Regions from separate parts of the Homo sapiens genome. Here region 2 is linked to region 1. The links come from fine-mapping of genetic effects on gene expression. Tissue or cell type: whole blood. Region 1 holds a variant in brackets; the other region holds the start of a gene. All regions are shown on one strand. Distances are from middle to middle.

Evidence for each region. PIP is the estimated chance that this variant, and not a neighbour inherited with it, causes the effect.
Region 2: TMEM254 starts here. The variant in region 1 is fine-mapped to the expression of TMEM254 in whole blood (TOPMed, PIP above 0.99). The same link has a PIP of 0.9 or more in spleen and thyroid.

What each region holds. Positions count from the first base shown.
Region 1 is chr10:80,048,849-80,059,536 of GRCh38, reverse strand. It overlaps TMEM254-AS1 (TMEM254 antisense RNA 1), which reads left to right. Exons shown (of 4, transcript NR_027432.1): 3 at 5,951-6,141; 4 at 10,359-10,688. Among named protein-coding and RNA genes, the nearest start is that of TMEM254, 24 kb to the left of the region's middle. The variant C/T (reference allele first, on the strand shown) is at 5,886.
Region 2 is chr10:80,073,147-80,083,834 of GRCh38, reverse strand. It overlaps TMEM254 (transmembrane protein 254), which reads right to left and starts at 5,170. Exons shown (of 4, transcript NM_025125.4): 1 at 5,049-5,170; 2 at 1,891-1,994; 3 at 1,631-1,690. The coding sequence starts at 5,135. TMEM254-AS1 (TMEM254 antisense RNA 1) reads left to right here and starts at 4,642. Exons shown (of 4, transcript NR_027432.1): 1 at 4,642-5,108.

The sequences.
Region 1 (10,688 bases):
AAAAAGGAAAGAATCTCACACCTGTAAGTAACCCTGCACTTTGGGAGGCTGAGGTGGGCGGATCACCTGAGGTCAAGAGTTGGAGACCAGCCTGGCCAACATTGTGAAGCCCTGTTTCTACTAAAAATACAATTAGCCGGGCGTTGTGGCTTGCGCCTGTAATCCAAGCTACTCAGGAGGCTGAGATGGGATAATCGATTGAACCAGGGAGGCGGAGGTTGCAGTGAGCCGAGATCGCGCCACTGCACTCCAGCCTGGGCAACAGCAAGAAGAAAAAAAATCTGAAGTAGGGGAGCTTTCAAGGAAGACAAAGATTGGCTAACAATGTTCGATGACTTAGGAAAGAAGATTAACCGTATGATCGGGCAATTTAGGACCTGATTTGTTAACTTTTACCAATGATGTCTAAACAATGCAGTGAGAACAGAGAGACTGGAGTTGAGAAAAGAATGAAAAGAAAGAAAGTGAAGGTGCCTGGTAAAAATGTTTTTGGAAGCAGCTTGATGGGGGCGGACGGGGAAGGTCGCCACCTAGTGTGATTTCAAGGTTACTGAGAATAAAGCACGAGTGGGCGTGGTGGCTCAAGCCTGTAATCCCAGCGTTTGGGAGGCCAATGTGGGTGGATCACTTGAGCTCAGGAGTTCGAGACCGGCCTCGGCGAAGTTGCGTAAACCTAGTGTCTACAAAAAATACAAAAATTAGCTGGGTGTGGTGGCGCGTGCCTGTAATCCGAGCTACTCGCGAGACTGAGGCAGGAGAATTGCTTGAACCTGGGAGACGGAGCTTGCAGTGTGCCGAGATCCTGCCACTGTACTCCAGCCTGGGTGACAGAGCAAGACTCGGTCTCAAAAAATAATAAATCAACAACCACAAAGCGGGCCCGAATTACTGGGAAGACAAAAAAGCCAAAGAACTCAGCATAGGCCCAATCTAATTTTGGTTTGCTCTACTCTCTCAGTCGTTGATATTCTCCAAGACTTCCAGCTCCCAAAATATTTCTTCAACTACCCCAAAGCATCTGGCACTGCTTGAAAGGACCTGCTGGAGTCCCAGGATGAAAGGAGGTTATGTTAACCATCCTTGCGCGGAAATGAAGAAAACCACGAGTTGTTCCTCCTGCTTTTTCCTGTTTTTTTTTTCTGTTGTTGTTGTTGTTGTTGCAGAGGCGCGGTCCACCCTGGAATGAAGTGAGAAACCGAAATCATTTGGGGCTGTTTCCTTCCTGCAAGTCAGCCATTACCTTGCCCAATTCAAACTTTATTTTCACCTGCTTTAATTCCTGCTAGTTATTTTCCTCTTCTTAGAGTTTGACCTCAGGTAAATTAGCTAATCTCTCTGTGCTTCAGTAGTCATCTGTATAATAATATATATCTCCGTAAGGCACTGTAAGATTTAGGTAAGATAATGTCTGAAAACTCTGTTCTTTGGGCCGGCCATATAATGAGTCCTCATAAATTGTAGCAATTAGTTTAAGTAGAACGAAGAATATATGTATCACTCTGAATTAAGATGGATTAATATAAAACACTTGTCGAGGATGAGCTGCATTTTCCAAACCTGGAGGACAAAAAACCCTCCAAGTGTTATTACCTTATTCCACACATTTGGGAAAGTACAATGTCCTAGAGTTGTGAAAAAAGCAGAAAAGCCCACAGTTTCCTTGTCTGTAATATGGAGGTTTTGGTATCTCATAGGGTAGTTTTTAGAATAAGATGAATTAGCAAATGGTTTAATGTTTATAAAACATTAGTTTTATATCTTAGAATGTCCTTATTCAGTGTTAATCTCTGGTCACTCCTGCCTCCAATCTCAGTATTCTGTAAGCAATGATATATCAGGTGATGTGGATCTTCTGTGAGCCTGACAAGGCTTCCGTCCTCACAGAGCGTGCAGTCTATAAATGTGAAAGTGATGGCCACAGGCAGGAGGTTCAAGGTCAGACTGCCTGGGTCAGAGGCTCACTCTGTGCTCTAAACCTTTCTGTCCCCCTGTCTTCAAGTCTAAGTAGGATTAAAATAGGATGCACATTATAAGGGTGTTGTAGGGATTAAATAAGCAAATTGTTTTCACTGGGTGCTCATTGAGTGAATGGGATTTGAAAAGTTAGGTAAAGCCATCAAGAGGTGTGTCTAGGGCAAGGCTGTGCCTAGGGTGGGGCTGTGTCTGGGGCGGGGCTGTGTCTAGGGTGTGTGAGGGAGGGCGTCTCAGGGTTATGTTTGATGATTGCTGCTTCAGAGTTAATCACTTTATCATTCAGAACCTGGACTAGAGATTCATCTGAACTTCCAACGGTGAGTTTCTGTGGTGGACACCAAAGCGTGTTTCTTTTGCAGGAGGCTCCTTACCTAATGCATTAGTGTTTTGTATTAATAGGTGTTTGGGCTTTCACTTTTTTTTTTTTCTTTTGAGACAGGGTCTTACTCAGTTGCCCCGGCTGGAGTTGGGGAATCTTGGCTCACTGCAACCTCTGCCTCCTGGACTCAAAGCTATATTCTCCAGCCTCAGCCTCCCAAGTAGCTGGGACCACAGGCATGCACCACCACACCTGGCTAATTTTGGTTTTTTTGTAGAGACAGGGTTTTGCTATGTTGCCCAGGCTGGTCTCAAACTCCTGAACTCAAAGCAATCTGCTCACCTCAGCCTCACAAAGTGCTGGGATTACAGGCATGAGCCACCCTGCTAGGCCTGACTTTCACCTTTCAAAAGTTCAAGCTTGTAGGCTGGGAACAGCTGATTTCATCAGAGTAATTGTGTGTGGTTGCCGTATGGTAGAATTGGGTATAGGATTTTACTAGAGGCTCAGGTATTTAAATCTTAACCCATCATAGCATTAAGAGAGACTTTATATTTTAGAGATACATATGGATGTATTTTCGGGTGAATGACATGTCTGAGATTCACTTCAAAATAATGAGGGTGGGGTGTCAAGGAGATAAAATTGGCCAGGTATTGCTATATATTAAATTTCAGTGATAAGATCATCAGGCTAATTATACGCTTCCGTCTACTTTCCTGTATGGTTAAATGTAAACAGGGTGAATACTGAAAACAAAAACGTCCTCAAAGCAAAAGAGCTATACTGGAAGAATTGTAGAAATGGCCCTAGGCATTTTTTTCCCTTTTGTTCACAGATTTGATATTTCATGAAATTCAGAAATAATTTGGAGCTTTTCAAACCTGGGATATGGAAGAAACTGACACTCCTGTTCTCTGGGAAGGTGGGCTTGCAAAGTATGGGGATTCTGGATTTCTTTTTCTAGATGAGCCCTGGTTGAGAGAAGTCTCCGGTTAGTTCCAGCGGTGCCTTGTATCTTAATACGTTGTGTTTAATGAGTAATAACCTAAGTCAAAGGTGCCCCGATAATATACAGTGGGCCCAGAAGTCCACTGGGCTCATCACTATATTTCAGAGGCAAGAATCTGCATCAAAGAGCCCTGGAAGCAATCATGGCTCAACTGTGATGCCTTTAGAACATGAAGTCCTCCAAGAAGATGCCATAGGAATGGCCTCCATCCCAGGGCCTGGAGAGCAGCCAGAGACAAGAAGAGTAGCCCAGGAGGGCACTGGCAGTCAGTGCTACACTGTGGCCTGTCAGTCTCAGAGCCAGGATTTAATCACTGGCAGGCAGGCTCCAGAGGTCCTGCTCCTCACTGTGGGTCTATGGCCATACAAAGCAAGTTGGTTTGGTTGCTGTTTTTACTATAGGAACTGAGTGTTTATCGTAAAAAACTTATGTTTTTTACAAGTGTTACGTGTGCACATTTGCTTTTTAGAAATGTTGGGAAGTTTTTATATTGGGTCATGGCATTGGGAACAATATGCTCCTATGAACATAAGTGTACAAATTGCTGTTCAAGTCCATGCTTTCAATGATTGTGGGTATTTACCCAAAAGTGGAATTGCTGAATCATATAATAATATTTAATTTTTTGAGAAACCACCATAATGTTTTTTCTTTTTCTTTTTTTTTTTTTTTAGACAGAGTCTCACTCTGTCACCCAAGCTGGAGTGCAGTGGTGTGATCTTGGCTCACTGCAACCTCTGCCTCCCAGGTTCAAGGGATTCTCCTGCCTTGGCCTCCTGAGTAGCTGGGATTACTGGTGCACACCACCATGCCCGGCTAATTTTGTATTTTTAGTAGAGATGGGGTTTTGCCATGTTGGCCAGGCTGGTCTCGAACTCCTGACCTTAGGTGATCCATCCACCTCGGCCTCCCAAAGTGCTGGGATTACAAGCATGAGCCACCACGCCTGGCCCACCATACTGTTTTTCATGTGGCCACACCATTTTACATTTCTTCACATCCTTGACAACTCTTACTGGGTTTTTTTTTTGTTTTTGACAGTAGCCATCCTATCCTAATGGGGTGAGATGGGGGGTGAGATGATGTGTCACTGTGGATTTGATTTTTTTTTTTCATTTCCCTAATGATTATTGATGGTGAACATTTTTAATGTGCTTAATGGCCATTCATATACCTTTTTGGGAGGGATATCTGTTCAAGTCCTTTGCCCATTTTAAAATCAGGTTTTTTTTTCTTTGTTGTTGGGTTGTAGTTTCTTTTTTTTTTTTTTTTAAGATGGAGTCTCACTCTGTTGACCAGGCTGGAGTGCAGTGGTGAGATCTCGTCTCACTGCAACCTCCCCCTCCTGGGTTGACGCCATTCTCCTGCCTCAACCTCCTGAGTAGCTGGGACTACAGGTGCCTGCCACCACGTCCTGCTAATTTTTTGTATTTTTTAGTAGAGACGGGGTTTCACCGTGTTAGCCAGGATGGTCTCGATCTCCTGACCTCGTGATCCGCCCCCTTGGCCTCCCAAAGTGCTGGGATTACAGGCATCAGCCACTGCACCCGGCCCCAACTTGATTATTTTGCATGTGGATACCCAGTTTCCCACAGCCCTGTTTGTTGAAAAGAATGTCCTTTCCCCAGTGAATGGTCTTGACACCCTTGTGAATCATTTGACCATGTTTGTGAGGATTTATTTCTGAGCTCTCTAGTCTATCCCACCAGTCTATATGCCTGCCTTTGTGCTAGTACCAAACTATAATTGCAATGGTAACCTCAAGAAAATATCTACAGAATATATTTACACTTGTACATCCACTAGTACCACATTGTTTCATCATAGGTTTGTAGTAAGTTTTGGAATCAGGAGGTGTGAGACCTTCAACTCTGTTCTCCTTTTTAAAGATTGTTTTGTCTATTGTGGATACCTTGAGATTCCACATACATTTTAGGATGAAATTTCCTATTCTGCAAAACATGTCTGGGATTTTAAAAATAGGAATTGCATTAAAGATATAGATCACTTTGGGTAGTAGAGCCATCTTAACAATATTAGTTCTTCTAATCCAGGAACACAGGATAGCTTTGTATCTTAATTAAAAAAAAATTTTTTTTGAGACAGGGTCTCACTCTGTCAGCCAGGCTGGAGTGCAGTGGTGTGATCATGGCTCAATGTAGCCTTGACCTCCTGGGCTTGCTCAAATGATCCTCCCACCTCAGCCTCCCAAGCAGCTAGGTTAACAGGCATGTGCCACCAAGCCCAGCTAATTTTTAAAAATTTTTATTTTACCTCTTTTTTTTTGCCAGGGCCTTGCTCAGATGCCCAGGCTAGAGTGCAGTGGCACAATCATGACTCACTGCAGCCTTGAACTTCTATTTTTTTAGAGATGGGGTCTTGCTATGTTGCCTAAGCTGATCCTTGAACTCCTGGCCTCAAGCAGTCCTCCCATCTTAGCCTCCTGAGTCAATGGGATTACAGGCCTGAGTCACTACACTTGGCTAATCTCATTAGTAACTTTATTATTATGTACAGGTATGAGATTGGGCTCCACTTTTTAAAAATTTTATGAAATAGCCAATGATTGACCTTTTTTTT[C/T]CCCCCACTCTGGATATTACTAGTATTCTCCAATGCTTTTCTCTTTCTGTTTGTACATTTTTCAGGATCTCCCATTAACCAGTCATAATGAAGTAAGAACAAGAAGATGGGGAAGAGGAAGTGTAAAACCGTGGCTTAAATTTGCCAAGGATAAGCTGAGTGTACTTCAGCAGTCATTTGCACAGAATCCTTATCCTAATTTTACAACCAGGGAAAAACTGGCTGGACAGTCTCTTGTCCTGTGTTTGTAATTGATGTAAGTAAAATATTAAAAGCTTTGCATGGGTATGTCTTTTTATAGATAATGTGGAAAATGTAAAGAAGCATGAAAAAGTTTAATAGCATTTTATCACATAGCACAAAGTGATTTTTTTAGGCTGGGCGCAGTGGCTCATGCCTGTAATCCCAGCACTTAGGGAGGCTGAGGCGGGCAGATCACTTGAGGCCAGGAGTTCGAGACCAGCCTGGCCAACATGGCAACACCCCATCTCTACCAAAAATACAAAAATTAGCCAGGCAGGTTGGCACGTGCCTGTAGTCCCAGCTACTTGGGAGGCTGAGGCAGGAGCATTGCCTGAACCTCAGAGGCAGAGGTTGCACAGGGCCAAGATGGCACCACTACACTCCAGCCTGGGCAACAGTGAGATTCTCAAAAAAAAAAAAAAAAAAATTTGATTTTTTTTTTTTGGTTGTTGTTCATCTCAATGTGGGTGTGAATATATTATATATGCATTTTATGGAAAATAGACTATTGTGAGGCAAATTTGGGAGCAGTGTTAAGAAGCTACTGTAGGCTGGCTGCGGTGGCTCATGCCTATAATCCCAGCACCTTGGGAGGCTGCGGTGAGCGGATCACCTGAGGTCAGGAGTTCAAGACCAGCCTGGCCAACATGGTGAAACCCTGTCTCTACCAAAAATATAAAAATTAGCCGGGCATGGTGGCACGCGCCTGTAATCACAGTTACTCAGGAGGCTGAGGTAGGAGAATTTCTTAAACTCAGGAGGTGGAGGTTGCAGTGAGGCAACATCACGCCACTGCACTCCAGCCTGGACGACAGAGCGATACTCTGTTTCAAAAAAAAGAAAAAGCTATTATTGTAATTTTCCAGGATAGAGACAGTGATGGTTTTGACAAGGGTGCTGGCTGTGGAATTAGAGAACTGGGAAGACCTTTAATTTTTAAAGGTGGAGCGGCTTATAGTTTGCTGAGTTATTGGGGATGCCAGAGGTAAGGATAGCTCCAAAGTTTTGGCTTGACATGGAAGATTGGAGATGCCTTTAACTAACAGGGGAGCTTGGGAGAAGAGCACTTTTGTGTCAGACATTTGGAGTTTTACTTTGCACACGTTAAGTTTGGTGTGCCAATTAAACTTCTAAGAGTTTACTTACTCCAAGGAGTAAGTAAAAAGTTAGGCATGCAAGTCTGAAGTGCAGGAGGAAGAACTTGGCTTGATAGTGTCACGGGACTTGGCACAGAACCCCACAGCATCAGTAGTTGCTTCATAACCATTTATTGCACGAACTAATATTTTGTTTGGTGATTTTCTGATATGATCATTGTAAATTGTTAAAGCACAACATCTTATTGTATTTGAATTTATATTATTTACACATACAATATATTCTCTAATCCCCTGACAGATTATATATACACATTTAAGGAGACTTTCATATTTCTCATCTGTGATTATCCTTTGACTATTGAATATATTGGTTGCTTGACAGAAGGACAAAATTGTGTTAGTGAAAACAAAGAATATAAGCAACTTTGGAGAATAAAGGAAAAGTATAGGCAAATATTGTGTAATGAAATTTTTATAAAAGTTTCGTGAAGTAGGCCAGGCATGGTGGCTCATGCCTGTAATCCCAGCACTTTGGGAGGCCGAGGTGAGTGGATCACCTGAGGTTAGGAGTTCAAGACCAGCCTGGCCAACATGGCAAAAACCCATCTCTACAAAAATACAAAAATTAGCTGGGAGTGGTGGCAGACACCTGTAATCCCAGCTATTCAGGAGGCTGAGGCAGGAGAATCGCTTGAACCTTGGAGACAGAGGTTGCAGTGAGCTGAGATGATGCCACCGCACTCCAGCCTGGGTGACAGAGGGAGACTCCATCACAAAAAAAAAAAAAAAAAAAGCTTCATGAAGTGAGAACATTTCAAGGGAAATACAAACAAATGCTTTCCTGCAAATAAGTAGAAAATCCAAATAAAGTAAATAACCAGGATAGAAATGGAAGGACTGATCGATTTCTTTTTTTTTTTTTTTAAGTGACAGGGTCTCACTCCGTTGCCCAGGCTGGATTTCAGTGGCGCAATTGTGGTTGACTGCAGCATCGACTCCCTGGGCTTAAGTGATCCCACCTCAGCCTCCTGAGTGGCTGGGACCACAGGACATGATGCCTGGTTAATTTTTTTTTTTTTTTAATGTAGAGATGGGGTTTTGCCATATGGCCTAGCCTGGGCTCAAACTCCTGGGTTCAAGCAATCCTCCTGCCTCAGCCTCCCAAAGTGCTGGGATTACAGCATGAGCCATTGCGCCTGGGCTTGGTCAAACATTTAAATGAACGTTCTTATACTGTTCATTTATTTACATTTCTAACTTTGTGACAGTTGGGTTGCTCATGGTCAAAAGTGCTTTTTAATTATGTTTTATCCTTTCTACTTGTCAGAGGGATAGATTCCTAAAAGGAAGTTCATAGATAACGGCTAATCAAATTACACTGAATTGAACTGGCCTGCATGTGCTTAAAGAAAGTGCCCATGATGTGATCAGGAAGCAAGCATGTTTGAGGGGAGGGCCACAGGAGGCTCTGTCATGAGAGAGTGAGGTCTTGTCTTTTGGTTGGGTCCTCATGAGATCTACCTCCTAATGGCTCTATAACATCTGACTTATAGAGGTGCAAGTTGACTTATAAGGTGCAAGTTGACTCTTGCACCTTATCTTTTTGTAAAATATGTATAATTATGTTGTGATGGTGTTGTGAGAAGAAAATGAGTATATCTGGAGGTGCCAGGTTCATTGTGCATGGTCACAATTTTATTTATTTGTTTATTATTTATTTATTTTGAGATGGCGTCTCACTCTGTTGCCCAGGCTGGAGTGTAGTGGCACAATCTCAGCTCACTGCAGCTTCTGCCCCCTGCGTTCAAGGGATTCTCCTCCCTCAGCCTCCTGAGTAGCTGAGATTACAGGCATGCGCCATGATGCCCAGCTAATTTTTGTATTTTTAGTAGAGATGAGGTTTCCCCATGCTGGCTAGGCTGGTCTCGAACTCCTGATGTCAGGTGATCCACCCACCTCAGCCTCCCAAAGTGCTAGGATCACAGGGGTGAGCCACCGCGCCTGGCCCACAACTTTGTTTTAAGCAGTCATTATAGGTGTGGATCAGACATCTTTCTAGCTTTAAGCGCTATTAACCTAAAGCAATTCTGAACTTGCAGACAGAGGGGTTCCTGGAGGGATCAAATATTAAAAGGCCCCCAGACATCCTTACCTGCATGGTAGGGCTCTAGGTGCGGTACCACAACAGAGCTTATTAGGATGGAGAGTCTAAAACAGTGTTGATCATTTCTCCCTCCCCTAAACCCCTAGGGATTATGGTTGGCAGGTGTAATTATCCTCTCTTTGTGGAGGAGGGAAAAAAATGAAGACTAGAGGTGTCAAATGGAATGCTTAGAGTCACGTGTAAGATGCCTTGCCAGGTTATTACAAACTCTTGCTTGTTCCTTTTTTTTTTTTTTTTTTTAGATAAAGTCTTGCTCTGTAACCCATGCCAGAGTGCAGTGGCACAATCTCATCTCACTGCAACCTCCCCCTCCTGGGTTCAAGCAATTCTCCTCCCTCAGCCACCCAAGTAGCTAGGATTGCAGGCACACACCACTATGCCCAGCTAATTTTTGTATTTTTTTTTAGTAAAGACAGGGTTTCACCAGTTGGCCAGGCTGGTCTTGAACTCCCAACCTTGTGATCCACCTGCCTCAGCCTCCCAAAGAGCTGGGATTACAGGCATGAGCCACTGTGCCCGGCCAACTCTTGCTTGTTTTATGCATAGTCTTTGAATACAGTGAATTTAAGAGTATAATTTAGAGTATATTGAATCACAAGTTTATCCTGGTAGGTCAGCGTGAGTAAAATAAATAAGTTAGGGAAAGGCTGGAAGTCTGTTCTTTCCAAATGCGGAGGATTGCAAACAGGTTGGTAGGAGATTTTGAAAGGTCCAGGTTTGCATGTACAAAAGGGCCACTGCAACTATGAGGCAGTTGAAATTTTGGGATTGTGCACAATTTATAACCTCCATAATGTGCAGCCCCACAAAGGATTGCCTTCATTCTTTGTGTCTTATTCAAGTCAGGAAACAAGCCGGTGATCATCCTGAGACTAAACTTAACTGTAAAATTCTACATTGTGGAAATGCATTGTACAATATGTCTTAACCAACAGATTGAATTAACAAACTGTTCTTTCTCTTTAGAACTGGTTTCAAAATAAAAGCCAGACCACCACTTAGAGAGAGACACAGAATGTTCACTGCCAGGGAACTGCATGATTCCTCTGCCAAAGGCCACCCATTTACAAGAATCCAGGAAAACCAGGTGGAATCTCCCAATGATGACCCTGAGCAGAACTTCTTGTACCCAGGAAGTTCTACTGGGTGGAGCTGGCCACTCTTCCGTGGAGACACAGGGGACTCCCAATTAACATGATGGCTCAAATAACTGTAGCCTTATGGATTAAAAGGAAACTAAGCTGTGATTTGGAGTATCCAGGTGATACAGAAAATGGCCCTTGTCGATGTAGATCA
Region 2 (10,688 bases), 24 kb before region 1:
AAAGTGCTAGGATTATAGGTGTAAGCCACTGCACCTGGCCAGCAGCAGCTATTTAAGGCTGAGCCTTGTTCTCCCTAACTATTCCCACTATCCCAAGGGACCACAAGCAGCGATTATTAGTGAATAGAGGAGAAGGTGAAGTGCAAGAGAAGATATCAACTGCACCCTTCTCCCCACTGCAGGCTCCTGAGCCCCAGCTGGATGAAAACAGACATTTTGAATTAGAAGAAAGTTTATAGTTTTAACAATAGACTGGGCTAGAATAGATAATATCAGATGGTGACTGGAAATCCTACGATCTGTTTGAAATTCCATCCAGAGATACGGTGGAAGGTGGGGAACGATCTACAAAACAAATTTACTTGGAGAGGGGTGAGAAAGAAAGAATAAAGTTACTTTCTGCTCCTCTTCATAGAAAGTCTAGCTTGTGGCCAGGCACAGTGGCTCATGCCTATAATCCCAGCACTTTGGGAGGCGAAGGCAGGCGGATCACCTGAGAGGTCAGGAGTTCGGGACTAGCATGGCCAACATGGTGAAACCCCGTCTCTAATAAAAATACAAAAATTAGCCAGGCATGGTGGTGGGCTTCTGTAATCCTAGCTACTGGGGAAGCTGAGGCAGAATCGTTTTAACCCAGGACGTAGAGATTGCAGGGAGCCAAGATTGCGCCACTGCACTCCAGCCTGGGTGACAAAGCAAGATTCCCTCTCAAAAAAAAAAAAAAAAAAAGTCTAGCTTATTTGTTTAATAAACAAGAAAACAGAGTAAGATCATTCTATTTAACATACTTAGCAGTCTCTGACATAGCAGTACCCAATCAATATTATTTTTATTATTGAAACATAGTAATAGCAATACAGTATCTTATTTTCCACTTTTAGAATAGAAAAATAATAGAGGTGATAGTATATCTTGACCAGAAATTAATTCAATTAATTATTATCTTGACCAGAAATTAATTGGAAAGAAGCAATTTGGCATTTCCATAACCATGTTTTTCATTGTACCATACTTTCTGTATATGCTTATATAAAGTACAAACATAATTTTTTCTTGTATTCTCACATAGCATTAACCTATACTAGCATCTCCTGAGTGGGGTCTGGTTTGGGGGCTTTTAACTAGCATTGCATCCTAGAATTATCTGTGGAGCTTTTAAAAAGAGCACATTCCTATCTCTGAGGCAAGACTTACCCAATCAGAATCTCTGGGTCTGGAAACCAGACGTGTGTATTTTGAAAAAGCTCCTCAGGTGGCTCAATTGTAAAACGAGGATTGTGAGTCATCGGCCTAGGTCAGTCACTTAGCTCTTTTGTAAACTAGAAGCCAGGCTCCTATTCCTAGTCTTTTGATCTAGTTGGGGCTACCCAGAAAATTTGTTAAAAAATAACAAAAGTCATCTGAATTAGATAACTAAGTAATTGGTTAACCAACATAAACAAAATGAATGCATTCATCAAACATTTACTGGGTACTGCCTCTGCTCCAGGCTCAGTATCAGGCATGGGGATTCCGCTCTACCCTGAGAATATTCTCAGCCTACAAGTGTGTGAACTATTTAAATGTGGCTGCTCTCAATTTATATTAGCTACTAAGAGAAAGGCAACAAACACCTACTTCAAAGACTTACTTGCACAATACTATGGCATACAAGGACTCTCCCACATGAATCAGCCAGGCAAGCCAATACCTGAAACCAAAAAAAAGGTTAATCTTTTTTAAGGTGATAGTTATCTGCTGATGAAATCTAACACAGCAATCTCAAAAAGAAAAGTGCCTTAAGGTGAACCGACACTACTCTTAGATACCAAAAGGCAGCTGCAGGCCTTCCAGGTTTCCCATGAGACCAGAGCTCCAGTGTCCACAGTCCACTTGTGCAGCTCTCCTTACCCATTGCACAGGAGGGTGTGATGGTGGTCCACCAAGTACTGAGTGAAGGGGCCCAGGGGCCCAAGGTTCTGATAAGGGATACTCTGAGGCCAGAAGACAACCCACTGAAAGAGAAGCAGAGACACAGAATACCTATTAGGTCACTTAAAACCTGTTTTTTGTTTTTGTTTTTGAGAAAGGCTGTGAAACAGTAAAAAAATTACCACAGACCGAAGAAACTCTGAACAGTCATTTGGGTCTCCATTCTTGGCTTCTATTTTCTTTCTTTCTTTTTTTTTTGACAGGGTCTCACTCCGCTGCTGGGGCTGGAGTGCAGTGGCATGATCATGACTCACTGCAGCCTCCACCATCTGGGCTCAATCCATCCTCCCACCTCAGCCTCCCAAGTAGATGGGACTACACGTGTGTGCCACCATGCCCAGCTACTTTTAAAAATTGTATATAGAGATGGGGTCTCACTATGTTGCCCAGGATGGTTTCCAACTCCAGGGCTCAAGCAATTCTCCAATCTTGGCCTCCCAAAGTGCTGGGATTACAGGCATGACCTACTGTGCCAGGATGACTTCTATTTTCTAAAAGCAACTCTACTGGGAGACTTATGCTGAGGAAAGTATGTGGTTATCAGACTCAGTGCCCACGGTGGATGACTCTTAAAGTCTTTTTTTCTTCCTTTTCTTCTTTTGTTTTCTTTGTAGAGAAGGGATCTCGCTTTGTCACCCAGGCTTGAGTGCAGTGGCCTGATCACGGCTCACTGCACCCTTGACTTCCCGGGCTCAAGCGATCCTCCCAACTCAGCTTCCCCAAGTAGCTGGAATACAGGCATGGCTACCACGACTGACTAATTTATTTATTTATTTATTTATTTTAGATGGAGTTTCACTCTGTCGCTTAGGCTGGAGTGCAGTGGCACGATCTCGGCTCTCTGTAACCTCCGCCTCGCGGATTCAAACGACTCTCCTGTCTCAGCCTCCAGAGTAGCTGGGACTACAGGTGCATGCCACCACGCCCAGCTAATTTTTGTATTTTTAATACAGACAGAGTTTCACCATGTTGGCCAGGCTGATCTCCAACTCCTGACATCAGGTGATCCGCCCTTCTCGGCTTCTCAAAGTGCTGGGATTACAGGTGTGAGCCACTGCCCATGGCTAATTTTGTGTGTGTGTGTGTGTGTAGAGATGAGGTTTTGCCATGTTGCCCAGGATGGTCTCGAACTCCTGGGCTCAAGCGATTTGCCCGCCTCGGCCTCCCAAAGTGCTGGGATTACAGGGGTGAACCACCATGCCTGGCTGACTCCTATTAATACATTCCACCAAAACCATTATTTTATAAAAGATATTAGCAAATTTTGAGTTTATGTGCTTTGGCTAGTTTCTTTACTGCAGAAACTGGCTCCAGCCAAACCTCTGTTTAATTTAGAATTCCTTTCTCGGCTTTCCCTTTTTGTACGGCTAAAACTGAGAATGATCCACTGCATAGAGATGGAAAATAAGTGAGATAAGGTTGTGACATTTTAATAGCAACTGCTTAATCACATAAATTTTTCGTAATCTTAACTTTCAGCCTCTGTATTGTAACTTCTGTCAGCTAAGACTTTTCTGAGAATAACTCAACAGTTTCAAAATGTATTGTCCCATTCAAATCTTTGTCAAGAGCAGTACTACCTCTCTCACGATGTTGTTTCACATCTGAAAGTTAAATAATGCACAAATATCACTGCATCCTCCCAAACCAAAGGGAAAGGGGAGCATCTGCCAGCTCCACAAGATCCCAATTTGAAGTCCCCAAAGCTTTCCTCCAACTATATTCTAACTAGTCACAGACACTAAATCGTAGAACAGAAATGCACCTTTGAAAATTTTCAGTTCAACACCTCCATTGTACATATGGGGAAATCAGGACATAGGTTGTCAGATTTGACACCAACAAACAACACTGTGGACAAGACAAATCTCCAATCTCCAGGATCTATTGGTATACCCAAATAGCTTCGCCTTCCTTCAAAATTTTACCACCTTATCACTTGACGTTAGGAGTTCGAGGCCAGCCTCACCAATACCCATGTCTACTAAAAACACAAAAAAATAGCTGGGCATAGTGTAATCCCAGCTACAGGTAAAGACATGAGAATCGCTTGAACCTGGGAAGCAGAGGTTGCAGTGAGCCGAGATCGCCCCACTGCACTCCAGCCTGGGTGACAGAGCGAGACTCCGTCTCAAAAAAACACAAAACTACCACCTTAGCCCCCAACCTACTTTTCCACGCATCTTTCTCGTTATCCTTTAAACAGATTATTTCTCAGCCAAACAAACGTCGCTCTTTTTCTAGGTACAGCTTTCTTCTTGCTTCCACACCTATGTCAGAACAGTTATAGCCTCTTTATCCTCCCTTACCACTTAAATCCTACCCATCCTTTAGATTTATCCCCGTTTTCCAAACAATTCCTATTGGCTCAAACATTCTGCTTCGGAAGCCCTATTCTGACTTGGCAGGCCTATGGCAGTCTGTTAACTTGACTTTCCGCTTCGTGAGAGGCTTAGGCTCGGATAACCCGTTAGTAACCATGCAGAGGTGAGGACCCAAAGACAGGAACACTAGAAAGCAGAAACTATCCTAAGAGCCCACCGAATTTCCGCTTACATGAGTAACCGAGACAACCGTCAGATGCGCGTGCGCACAGGCCCCGTTCCCAGAGCTCCCCTCGCCCTACGAGGGCCCGGCGGGCCAAAACAGAGGCCCGCCCCGCCCCACCCCACGCCTCACCGCGAAGTAGCCCAGCCCCAGGACTGTGACCAGAGAGGGCAAGGGTCTTGCTGGACGGAAATAGGCGGTAGCCGCATTGCTGGCCTCCGACTTCACCATCCTCTTGAAAAACCCAGACACAGAGTTGGCTGGGAGCTCCCCAGCCGTCCCCGCCCCCATATAAGAAAAGCCTGGCTAGCCGGTTTCTCAGGGCCCTGGGCGCCCGCCCAAGACCCTGGCGGACCAGTATGCTTGCTCTCATTGCGGAGTCTGGTCCCCTCCCCTCCGCTCCTAGCGCGCGGGAGTCGGGATTGTGCTTGCACGACTTCCCCCGGCCCGCGGCCTGTGAGCCCAGGTCCTGGGGTGAACCGAGCGCTCGCTCGTTCGTCAGACCGTAGCGCTCCAGCGGCTGTCCTTACTGTGTAGTAGCCAAAGCTGAGGGTGATGACTGTGAACCAGAACAGACTGCCTCGCTGAAAGTAGGTCGCGCCGGCTGCCGTAGCCATGGCTGCAACACCTCCCCGGGAGCGCGCTTCAGGACACCGTCGAGCGCGAGCGCGGAGGCAGGGCCGGGGCCGGCCCGCGCTCCCTCGCCATCCCCGCAGGGAGAAGATGGTGCTGGTTGGGAAGTCCCTGAGAGCGAGTCTCCCTGTCTGGCCCCAGTACAGGGGCCTTGGAATCACACCTGGGCTCAGGTCTGGAGGGCTGGTCATCATCTTGTAGGGGAGACACTCCTGTCACTTTTCTGGGTTTAAGATAAAGATGTTCGGGCTGGCGCGGTGGCGTGTCCCTGTAATCTCAGCACGTTGGGAGGCTGAGGTAGAAAGATCCCTTGAGCCCAGGAGTTTGAGACCAGCCCGGGTAACATAGCTAGACTCTGTCTCGAATGAATGAATGAATGAATGAGGTGTTGGAATAAATTCCAGCAATTTGGGAGGCCGAGTCGGGCAGATCACTTGAGGTCAGGAGTTTGAGACCAGCGTGGTCAACATGGTGAAACCCCGTCTGTACTAAAAATACAAAAAATTTGCTGGGCGCGGTGGTGCCTGCCTGTAGTCCCAGCAACTCCAGAGGCTGAGACAAGACTCTCTTGAACCTGAGAGGTGCAGGTTGCAGTGGGCCCAGATCACGCCACTGCACTCCAGCCTGGGCAACACAGCAAGACCCTGTCTCAAAAAAAAAAAAAAAAGATGGTGTTTTACTAAGAGTCTAATTTTTGAAGTTCTCTGTGCTGTGCACCTTGAGAAATAATGCTGTCCTCATTAGTTAAGATGTTTGGAACTATACAGCACCATGGTTATGAGCAGGGACTGTGAAACAGGCTGCCTGGATTTAAGTCCTGGCTCTGTCTCGGCTATTTGTGTAAGCTTAGATTAATTACTTAGCCCGGCTGTGTCTTAGTTTCTGTATCTGTAACATGAGGATATGCCAGTTTTGGGAACCTCAGGGTTTTTAGGGTGGGTTAAATGAGTTGATATCTGTAAAGAAAGCACAGCAGTGTCTGGCCCATAGTGCTTTGTAAGTGTGGGTGATTATCAATACTGCTGAGCCTTTAGCATGTGTGCCAGGCCCTGTGCGAACTGTTGTATCATCAATGAGCTGTGGGAGGTATATGCAGCTGAAGTGTCTGATTAAACACTATTTAATCATAGAAATAGAAAATCATAGAAATAGAAAAACTATTTCACCTGGGCCTTAAAAATGGGTTACTGGCCAAGCGCAGTGGCTCAAGCCTATAATCCTGGCACTTTTGGAGGCCGAGGTGGGTGGATCGCTCAGGAGTTCGAGACCACCCTGGAGAACATGGTGAAACCCTGTCTCTACTAAAATACAAAAAATTAGCTGGGGGTGGTGGCGCGTGTCTATAGTCCCAACTACTTGGGAGGCTGAGGCACGAGAATTGCTTGAGCACCGGAGGCGGAGGTTGCAGTGAGCCGAGATCCAATCACTGCACTTCAGCTTGGGCTATAGAGTGAGACTCCGTCAAAAAAAAAAAAAAAAAGTTACTATACTGTAGCTGGTATTTATTGAACACCTACTATGTTCAAGGCATTGTTCTAAGTACTATACAATAATTAACTAATTTAATTCTTAAAACAATCCTAGGCAGTAAACTATTGTCCTTATTTCAAAGAAGAAGAAACAGCACAGGGTCCTGTCATGCCCAAGTGGGTGAGGAATACTGGAAAACAATTGGCAGCTGAGTGTTCCAGTTCCAGAGAGGGCACTCTGGAACCAACCAAGGTTCTCTTTCCTCATTTTTTACGTGAGTATCTTGGGATATAAAGTCTTAAAGAATGAATTTCAGAATATGTGAGGAAATCCATTTCCCAGGTAGACCACAGTGCTCTTGAATATCAAGATTAACAGTAACAATTGTAACAATTGGTGTTTTCTTAGTCCTTATCATCCTTGATCACACCACCCTCTTTATTCTTCTCCTCCTTCTGAATAACTCCTTGTTTTCTCAGCTTTCCTTTTCTTTCTTCTCTCCTAGAATAAGTTTTGCTTATTATCTTCTTTGTGTTTTCAGTACCTATCAGATTCAATTTTCACCTTCAGCTGACTAAAATAATCTCTTCAGCCCTCACCTCTTCCCAGTTGGTCACCTTTACCAAAGATTACTCACACCTCAAAGACAAGAAGTCCATTATCATTATCCACAGAGTCCATCCTCACCAAGGCTACCCTGTCTGTGGTTTTTTTTTTTTTTTTTTTTTTTTTTGAGATGGAGTTTTGCTCTTGTTGCCCAGGCTGGAGTGCAGTGTTGCGATCTCGGCTCACTGCAACCTCTGCCTCCCCACTTCAAGTGATTCCCCTGTCTCAGCCTCCTGAGTAGCTTGGATTACAGGTGTGCACCACCACGCTTGGCTAATTGTGGAGACGGGGTTTCACCATGTTGGCCAGGCTGGTCTCGAACTCCTGACCTCAGGTGATCTGCCTGCCTCGGCCTCCCAAAGTGTTGGGATTACAAGTATGAGCCACCTCGCCCGGCCTACTCTATGTGAACAGCACTTTCTTTCTACCTTGTACCCAGATTCCTTGCTTTGACTTCCCCCATATCATATAAAGATTGCAGACTAATCAGCTGTCAAGAGTTCTACTGATTGGGTAATACAATATCTAATCCTTCTAGATTAAATCATGGCTTCATCTCCACTGTCTCATGAGTCAGTCACTCCTTCCTACTTCCTGCCACTTCAGCCCACATGCAGTCCCTTTATTGAATCTGTCTGACAAATAACAGGATCATCTTTTTCAAGTACAGTTCTGATCAAGCCTTTACCATACCAAAACTTTTTTTTTTTTTTGAGACAGAGTCTCACTCTATTGCTCAGATTGTAGTGCAATGGCGCAATCTCAGCTCACTGCAACCTTGGCCTTCTGGGTTCAAGTGATTCTCCTGCCACACTCTCTCTAGTAGCTGGGACTACAGTCACATGCCACCACACCCAGCTAATTTTTTGTATTTTTAGTAGAGATGGGGTTTCGCCATGTTGACCAGGCTGGTCTCAAACTCCTGACCTCAGGTGATCCACCTGCCTTGGCTTCCCCAAGTGCTGAGATTACAGGTGTGAGCCACCATACCCAGCCTACCTTACCAAAAGTTTCAAGAACTTCCCCAATTTTAGGCTGCCGTTTTTCAGTATTTCTATTTAGGTATTAAATCTGCAACGAGGGAGATATTGGAGAAATTATTCATGCTACAAGAAATGTTGGAGAGGCAAAATGGCTTCAGTCAACAGACTACAGGGAGCTAGGTTTTAGTTTCATGTCTTCTACAACCCTGCTTGGAGCCCAGCCTGTTACTTAGTGTCCTATGTCTTCCAACTCCACACTATTTTTTTTTTTTTTAATAGAGACGGTGCTTCACTATGTTGCCCAGGCAGATCTCAAACTCCCAGCCTTAAGTAATCCTTCCACCTCAGCCTCCCAAAGTGCTGGGATTATAGTTAGAGGCTGTACCTGGCCACCAACAGCTCAACACTAAACATCTTACTGTTAGCCCCTCACGCACAGATAAGGAATCCAGAAGACAGTACCAGAAGATCTTTGTTCAGATGTGAGTAGTTTATGTAAATTCATGAAGAACTTACAGTCAACTGGATGTTCAGAAGGCATTCCTTTCTTCATTACAGTCACCCTTCACACACGGCAGGGGTGACTGAATTCTCTAAGGTCCAGGCACCCTACACTGCTGTCCCATCTGAATTGGCAGAGAAATATCTCATCCCTGGACATTTTTATCCCCCTGTCTAGATGGATTAGTGACCTAAATATGAAAAATAATGAAGAAAGTCTGGGAGAATAGTTTTACAACTTTTGAGGGAGGGGAAGGAAACCTTTTAGCAAGTTATTAAAATTAAAAGCCATAGAAGGAAAGATTGAAAATTTAACTGCATCCAGATGAAAAGCTTCATTCATATGAATGACACTGTAAATAAAGTTGAAATACCTGGAAGAAGGAATTCTCCAATATATGTAATTGACAAATGATTAAAGGATATGAATTGGGCATCCTCAAAAGAGAAAACTTGAGACCAAGCAAAATGAAAGGATGGTTCAATCTTAATGGCCCTATGGGATACGCAAAATAAAGCAAAAATAACATTGTTTTTCCTCATAAGATTGGCCTACTAGATATCAAGACACACTGTAAAGAGCTATAATAATGTAAAACATTTGGCACTTGACATGCAGAAATCAACAAATGGATCAATGAAAAAATAATGCAGACTCCAGACATGGATCTGGTATATACATATCCAAGCGTTTATTTTATAATAAAGGTAACATTTCAAATTAAGGAAGGAATAATGGATTATTCAGTAAATTATTTTGGGGCAATTAGTTATCTATTCCAGAAAAAATATTTTAAATAATACTGTCCACTCCCAAACACAAATACACAAATGATGCAGTATCAAGAGATACAGAGGTATTAATAAGTAGTCCTCCTTGGGGAGTTATGATGAGGTGGCTATAGGATGGACAAGTGCTGAGATACAGCAAAAAACTCCCACACCTTCCCAGGATTATAGGATGGGGGAAGGGCGACCTAAACAAATTTACAGAAATTTGAATAGAATATTGTGTGTCCAGGGAATTAGGAGAAATTTTTTGTTGCTAGAAAAAAACAATGTGAAGAAATTGAGTGAAGGAAGTTGAGGCTGCAAAGACAGGTGGAGTCCTGATCATGAATGGCATTTGGTATCAAACCGAGGGGTTTTGATTTGATCCCTTAGCCAAGGTGAGTCAGTGAAATTCTGTTTGTTTTATTTAATTAATGTATTTATTATTTGTAGAGACGAGTCTCCCTATGTTGCCCAGCTGGTCTTGAACTCCTGGGCTCAAGTGATCCTCCTGCCTCAGCCTCCCAAACTGCTGGGACTACAGGTCAGGCTTGGGCCACCATGCTGAGCTAATTATTATTATTATTATTATTATTATTATTATTATTATTATTTTTAATAGAGATAGGGTCTCGCTATGTAGCCCAGGCTGGTTTTGAACTCCTGAGCGCAAGCTATCCTCCCACCTTGGCCTCCCAAAATGCTGGGATTACAGGCATGAGCAACCATACCTGCTCTGTTTGTTTTAACTAGTGGAGTGAACATATCTTGTGTACATTGGATGGAGGTAAAATTGGAAGGAAGGAAGGAGGAGAAGAAGAAAAATTATTGAAACAGTATAATGAGAATGGAGAAGGAAAATGCTACATTTTTTAGGTAGGGAAACCAAGGAATCATTCACTCAAATAGTCAAGAAATATTTCTGAAGACCGGCTGGGCGCGGTGGCTCACGCCTGTAATCCCAGGACTTTGGGAGGCTGAGGCGGGCGGATCATGAGGTCAAGAGATGGAGACCATCCTGGCCAATGTGGTGAAACCCCGCCTCTACTAAAAATACAAAAATTAGCTGGGTGTGGTGGCGCGTGCCTGTAGTCCCAGCTACTCAGGAGGCTGAGGCGGGAGAATCACTTGAACCCGGGAGGCACAGGTTGCAGTGAGCCAAGATTGCGTCACTGCACTCCAGCCTGGTGACAAAGCAAGACTCCA